Linked DNA regions of Homo sapiens. The gene in region 2 interacts genetically with the main gene of each other region. Each region holds a gene or a part of one and is shown on either strand. Other genes may lie near its edges. The genes, in order: ATG7 and IARS2.

Evidence for each region.
Region 1: of IARS2 (region 2) and ATG7, changing one enhances a phenotype caused by changing the other (phenotypic enhancement), as found in Homo sapiens cells (one large-scale study listed by BioGRID).

What each region holds. Positions count from the first base shown.
Region 1 is NC_000003.12:11,313,744-11,317,566, reverse strand, and holds part of ATG7 (ubiquitin-like modifier-activating enzyme ATG7), read right to left. Parts: intron 2,224-3,823; coding exon 2,074-2,223; intron 1-2,073. UniProt on the Homo sapiens protein: E1-like activating enzyme involved in the 2 ubiquitin-like systems required for cytoplasm to vacuole transport (Cvt) and autophagy.
Region 2 is NC_000001.11:220,100,479-220,104,301, reverse strand, and holds part of IARS2 (isoleucine--tRNA ligase, mitochondrial precursor), read right to left. Parts: intron 3,813-3,823; coding exon 3,653-3,812; intron 2,174-3,652; coding exon 2,025-2,173; intron 1,940-2,024; coding exon 1,890-1,939; intron 1,808-1,889; coding exon 1,698-1,807; intron 1,616-1,697; coding exon 1,525-1,615; intron 856-1,524; coding exon 740-855; intron 1-739.

The DNA.
Region 1 (3,823 bases), on a different chromosome or scaffold from region 2:
AGGCTTCGGAATCAGACAATGTGGTCGTGTGACTTTGAGTCTCAAACAGAAAATGCAGATACTAATTAACTAACCACAGGTAGTAACTAACGCTTGTTTCACAGACTTATCATAAAAAGATCAAGTATGTGAAAGTCCCTTTTAAATTAATTGTAAAGCACTGTTCAAACTGTTATTATTTTGGCAGAGCTGCACTTTGGGGAGGACCACTTATTTACCACATACAACCTGACCTACGGTCGCTTCCAAACACAGGCCATTTAATCCTGCCTGCTATGACAAGAGGACTTCACACTAGATTGGACTTTAAATTATTAACGGTCTTATTGCTATACTAATTTAGCTGTGGTTCTGTGAAATCACCTGGGGGAAAGAATTTTAATAAAAATTCAATCTTCAGTCCTCAATTTAAAAAGGGCTTCCTCTGGGCCAGGAGTGGTGGCTCACGCCTGTAATCTCAGCACTTTGGGAGGCCGAGGTGGGCGGATCACAAGGCCAGGAGATCAAGACCATCCTGGCTAACACGGTGAAACCCCATCTCTAATAAAAATACAACAAAAAAGGGGAGGTGGGCTTCCTCTGAAAAATAAAATGTAAATGTAGTTGATTTTAAAATGTGCTTTTAAAAAAAAAAGTCATCCTAAGTTCAGGCTAAAGAATAACCAGACCGTCAGTTAAAGGCTTTCCTTTTTTCAGCTCTGATATATTCACATGGCTATGGAGATGATTCCATTTGATTTCAGAACTTCATAACACTCATAATCTTTGATATTTTTAATTCATAGTCTCCTGTATGGCTAAGACAACTTCCTATATATCTGATCACTTCTAAAAGACATTTACGGTACTCTTTCATTCACTCAAAAGAATTTTATTGAGGGCCTCAGACAAGTACTAGACACTATGCAGACACAAATTCATAAGACTTGGGCCCTGCCCTCTTGGAGCTTACAGTCTAATATGGCACAAAAAGAAACTTGTACAAGGTACTGGACCTGCAAATGAGGATCAGGGAATAAATGCAGTGACTTCAGATAGGGATAGATCATATATGGCCACACCATGATAATGCTTCACAGTGGAGATAGAATTTCAATAAGACAGAGAGAATTTCTTAGGGTTTTCACAAGTAGAACATGTTTTAGGAAGATGATACAACACGAGGAAAAACAAAGATACAAAAAAAGTTTTAGATGTATCTGACGGGAAGGGGATGGAGATTCTGGAGAAAAATAGATAAGATTAGCTGGAGCAATGCTTTATGAGGAAAATAATGGAAGATAAGGCAGGAAAGGCAGCTTGGAGCCAGAAGGAAGACACCATTATGCTCTTGGTCAATGAATGATACACTAAATGTGGGTAGTTCAAGGGAGATTCTTCTACAGTAGTGTTGCACAACATGGAAACAAGATTCTAAGTGTCCAGGAGTGTGATATGAGGGGCCTGAACTACAGGGTAGTTCTGGGAATAAAAATTAAAACATAGAGGGTAAAATACATCAGGAGGGAAAACGGAAATAACTTTAGCACTAATAGAGAGTAAGGTATTGGCTGGGCACAGTGGCTCACACCTATAATCCCAGCAGTTTGGGAGGCCGAAGCAGGTCACGCATTCAAGACCAACCTGGCCAACATAGTGAAACCTCGTCTCTGTCTCTACTAAAAATACAAAAAATTAGCCAGGCATGGTGGCGGGCACCTATAGTCCCAGCTACTCGGGAGGCTGACCAGGAGAATCGCTTGAACCAGGAAGGCAGAGGTTGCAGTAAGCCAAGATTGCGCCACTGCGCTCCAGCCCAGGCAACAGTGCGAGACTCCATCTCAAACAAACAAACAAAAAAAAAGAGTAAGGTATCAAAATTATTCTGAGCTGTAGTAGAGCTAGAAAAACCTAGAGGAGCTGATTCGATAACTGTAGGGGTGGGAGAGGATAGAGATAAGGAAATGTTCTTAAACATCCTTTGAAGGCTAAGGAAATCTAAACAAGTTTGAATTTTGCAGTGGTCTCTTGTAACATGAACTTCAGATTTTTTAAAAAACTATATAATAAAATGATACTCAAAGTTTATCTGACCTTCGTCCTTTGACCTTGGAAGAAATCACTGTAGTGTTTAAGCAAGGAAACCAGCACCATGTTCTCATCATACTTGATTAAGAAGTAAGGAAGAGCTGTGACTCCTTCTGTTTGACAAAGATTATCATATGCACACTCTAGTGCTTCAATCTGAAAACAGAAAACACGTTGTTATTCTCTAGAAAATTACATTTCTAGTTCTGGGCTAAAAACTAACTCAAAAAAAAGGTACCTTAAAACCAGAAGACTAGAAATGACTGATCACACTCCTCTTACTCTATTACAGCAAGTGAACATAGAAGTGCCTCCAAATAATACCACTTAGCTTTTATATAACACTTTCCAGGGGCATGGTGGTGTGTGTCTTAGGGGCACAAAGGGACTACAACATGGTAGTTCCCTAAGCTGTCAATCAGAGTTTTAGAGCGGTAACGAAACATTCTTTCTCTCCTATGATAACCCAACATGAATCTACCCCTGATGAATTTTACCCCGAACCTTTCCATAATCTTCAACAGCTTTACTGAGACATGACTAACATACCATACAACTCACCCATTTACTACTTTTTGAGACAGGGTCTTGCTCTGTCACCCAGGCAATCACAGCTCACTGCAGCCTCGACCTCCTGGGCTCAATCAATCCTCCTACCTCAGCCTCCTGAGTAGCTGGGACCACAGGCACACACCACCATGGCTCAGCTAACTTTTTTGGTATTTTTTATAGCGATGGGGTTTCACGATATTGCCCAGGCTGGTCTTGAACTCCTGAGCTCAAGTGGTATGCTCACCTCTGCGTTCCAAAGTGCTGGAATTACACTATAGTTGTGAGCCACCGTGCCTGGCCCAATTCACCCATTTAAAGTACATAATGCAATGTGCTGTTTGTTTTTTTAGTATGTTCACAGGGTTATGCAAGCACCACAGCAATAATTACAGAACATTTTTGTCCTCAATAAAAGAAACCCCATACCTGCCAGCAGTCAATACTCAGCCAAAATCCTTTTTCCTTACTTATATTTCCTCTTGGGAAATTAGTTCCACAAAACCACAACCTCGGATTTGTACGAACAACAACAAAAAAAATTTAATCAATAATGGCTGCTCCCTGAACAGCTCCAAGAGAGCTCCCTGAATGATGGCATCAGTATTCAGGGCTTTAGTGATTGATGTGTTTCAAGAATTCAAATCATCTTGACACATAATCTTTGCCTTAACAACAATAAGAATTCTCTAGTTTAGGGTCTCTGTTATACCAGCCTGATTATTTTAACTGCTCTTCTGGGAACCATCTCTAATGAACTTATTATCTATCCCAAATGTCACCGACTAACTCTGCATGTACTGCTCCAGGTAGAAAAGTTCTGCAACTTGGTACAAGGGTAGGAGAATGCCTTCTGTTTTGTTTCAAAGACTCTTTCCCAGACTATACTGCCTTATGTTTCCCCACATTGAAAATGAAGACCACATTTTGGTAAATTCTTTCAGTGTTTCAAAATATTCCTATAATTCCCCCTTACTGGCTTAGCATTTCACCAAATACCACTGAAAACCTGGAAAATTACTGTGCACTACATCTTCAAAATGACTTTACAGACCAGGCAGGGTGGCTCATGCCTGTAATCCCAGCACTTTGGGAGGCTGAGGTGGACAGATTGCTTGAGCCCAGGTGTTGAAGACCAGCCTGGCCAACATGGCAAAACCCCATATCTATTAAAAGACAAACATTAGCCAGGTGTGATGGGATGCCT
Region 2 (3,823 bases):
TTATAGCTCACAAAGAATTATTTTGGGCTAGGCACAGTGGCTTACGCCTTTAATCCCAGCACTTTGGCAGGCCAAGGCAGGCAGATCACTTGAGCCCAGGAATTCCAGACCAGTCTGGGCTACACAACAAGAATTCATCTCTGTAAAATATTTTTTCAAAATTAGCCGGGTGCAGTGGCATGTGCCTATAGTCCCAGCTACTTGGGTGGCCAGGGCAGGAGGATTGCTTGAGCCCGGGAGTTTGAGGCTGCAATGAGCTGACTGGACCACTGCATTCCAGCAGTGGGCAACAGCATGAGACCCTGTCTCTTTAAAAAATAAAATAAAATAAAATTCCTTTGATAGAAGAACTGCTTTCTGAATAATTTTCAGAACTTATTCAATCCTTTATTAAAATTATGTATCGAAAAATAAGTATATGCATTTCCTTTCTTGCTACTTTTATTAAAACAGATAAAAACAATTTTAAAAATTAATTTTGCATAAAATTTTACCAAGTAACTACTGGATATTGCCAGAAATTAGTTTTACCTGTTGTACATTTATCAATATTCATATTTTTCTATACTCCTATCATGCTTAATGTATATTCTCCTTTAGTGTAATCAATGTAAAATGTATTCTAGAAAGGTAGAGGCCATATCTGTTTCAATTCAAAATATGCAGTTCAGCAAAGTAGTAAATTCAAGTCAGCCCAATACTTTGATGACTATGTTGTCAGATATCTAAAAATCTTCACCTGAAAGTGTTGAAATAGTCTCAAATGTTGTTTCCAAAGTAGAAGCAACAGATGCTACTTTATCTGCCGCCAGTACGTAGAGGTCTCCAGACTTAGAACATTTCACAACAGCATACCTAACATAAAATTTTAGGAGAAATTACTAATAATGAAACAAGAAAAGCCACAGATATCATTTTAATTTTTAAATAATCATTTTAGAAAAAACTGACTTCAGGCCAGCGCGGTGGCTCATGTCTATAATCCCAGCACTTTGGGAGGCCAAGGCAGGTGGATCACCTGAGGTTGGGAGTTTGCAACCAGCCTCACCAACATAGAGAAACCCCATCTCTACTAAAAATACAAAATTAGCCTGGCGTGGTGGCGCATGCCTGTAATCCCATAATCCCAGCTACTCGGGAGGCTGAGGCAGGAAAATTGCTTGAACCCGGGAGGTGGAGGTTGTGGTGAGCCAAGATCATGCCACTGTACTCCAGCCTGGGCAACAAAAGGCAAAACTCGGTCTCCAAAAAAAAAAAGAAAAAAGAAAAAACTGACTTCAAGATCAAACTGTACTATTTTCAAAACACTTTGTAACTTATACTTCTATTTCATTTTCCCGAAAAGCTGGATAAGGTCATAAAAAGGATCACCTAAAGGTTAATAAAATCTATATGAACATAATAACTAAGTTATAATTCATTAAATTTTACAATAATAAACAGGATAAAATAAATTCAAAATAATGTTAATAATGGAATACATTCTATTTGTGTATAAAACAAAAAATGCAATAATATACCCACTTTGATTCAGGCATATAGCAAACAGCTTCATTGGCTGGAATCGTCCAAGGTTGTGTGGTCCAGACCAAAATACTAACAGGAGATGAACCATCTGTGAAAATACAATTGTAAATATGTTAGCAAATGGGATAATTCTATAACTTTGGTACACTCAAGCTATGAATAAATCTTACCTATAAGAGATGCCAATTTTGGAGAAGGCTTTAAGAGAGGAAATTTTACATATATTGAACGACTGACATGCTCAGGATTATATTCAAGTTCTGCTTCAGCCAATGCAGTCCTAAGGGTTAAAAATATTAAACATAAATACTTGGAAGCCTCACAAATTTCTCCCTTTTAATTACCGAAAAATGCATATATACCTAGATGACGGAGACCAAAACACAGGTTTGTAAGATCGATAAACCAAGCCCTATAAAAGACAAAAATATGATGTTAAAAGTAGAATCTTGTAACGCATACTAAAACCTACTCAAAGAGAAAAAATACTTCTTTACCTTATCATACATTTGGTAAAAAGTTCTCAACTGTTTGGCTTCATACTTCCCATCAAATGTATAGTAGCAATTATTCCAATCTGCCATTATTCCCCAACGAATAAATGCTGATTTCTGTTTCTCAATGGCTGCTTTAGCAAATGATCTAGCTAAAAAAAAGACGAAAAAAAGATTTTAAAAAACCAATGAATTCGAATTCTTAAACATGGTTTAGCATGTATCTCTCTAAATGCAAATGCTACAGACAGTTTAGAATGCAAATTTTTTTTGAGACACAGTCTCGCTGTCACCCAGGCTAGAGTGCAGTGGCGCGAGTGGCATGATCTCGGCTCACTGCAAGCCTCTGCCTCCCGGGTTCACGCCATTCTCCTGCCTCAGCCTCCTGAGTAGCTGGGACTACAGGCGCCCGCCACCACGCCCGGCTAATTTTTTTGTAGTTTTAGTAGAGACGGGGTTTCACTGTGTCAGCCAGGATGGTCTGGATCTCCTGACCTCGTGATCTACCCGCCTCAGCCTCCCAAAGTGCTGGGATTACAGGCGTGAGCCACGGCGCCCGAGCACAAAATTTTTTTTTTTTGAGATGGAGTCTTGCTCTGTTGCCCAGGTTGGCATGCAGTGGCGGATCTCAGCTCACTGTAACCTCTGCCACACAGGTTCAAGCAATTCTCGTGCCTCAGCCTCCCAAGTATCTGGGACTACAGGCGTGAGCCACCATACCTGGCTAATTATTTGGTATTTTTAGTAGATACGGGGTTTTGCCATGTTGGCCAGGCTGGTCTCAAACTCCTGACCTTAGGTGATCGATCCACCTCCCTCAGCCTCCCAAAGTGCTAGGATTACAGGCATGAGCCACTGTGCCCAGCCTATAAAAATTTTTTAATAGAAAAATAATTTGAAGGTCAACAGTGTTCAGAAGATACCTACAACAAATTCTAAAATTAACTGGAATTGCAAAAGTTAAAATTTTATTACTGTCTTCTGTATTTTCCAGACTTTATACAATGACCTCATATTTAGGACAAATAAACTGGAAAAATTATTCCTTATTGTTTCTTAATTTAAGAAAAGGTCAGATAACAATTTTCATTTCATTATACACAAAAAATTAATCAGAATATCAAATCTAAGCCAATGATAATAGGTTTCACAAGGAAGTAAAAAAATCTTCACAGTTACATCCAAATGTACAATAGTATAACATATAAGAAAAAGAGAATCCTCCCTTGGCCCAGTCGACTGAAGAAAAAGGATCAAATAAAAGATTAATGTAAAATATATGTATTTTAGAATTGAATTTTGGCTTAACACCTAAAATCAGTCAACAAGCCCCCTTGAGGAAAGCAGAAAAAAGAATTTACCAAAAAATAGTTTTTTAAAATATGAACATTAAGAAACTGAGAATGCAATCAGAAATGCTCACAAAGTCTTTCCTTCAATATCCAAACATAAGTTCTTACAAAAATCAATGAAATAAAATCTGAATTTTCTGTGACAGAAAGGCGTTTCCAATAGATCTTATTATAAGCAAACGAAACCCAAACAAAAGGTTCCTTTGGTAAAGTTCTGACTATTTCAAGGACCTGAGTGTTTACAAATATCATTTTAAAACAGAAATACAGATTATTTACCTTTCTTTCTAATTTCCATAGCTGAAAGATTCTGAGCTTCTCTACCAAGTTCTGATAATACTTTTATTTCAATGGGCAACCCATGACAATCCCAGCCGGGCACAAAATGTATTTTGGAGCCATTCATCATATGGAATCGATTGGCTATGTCTTTCAAAATCTGCAAAGATA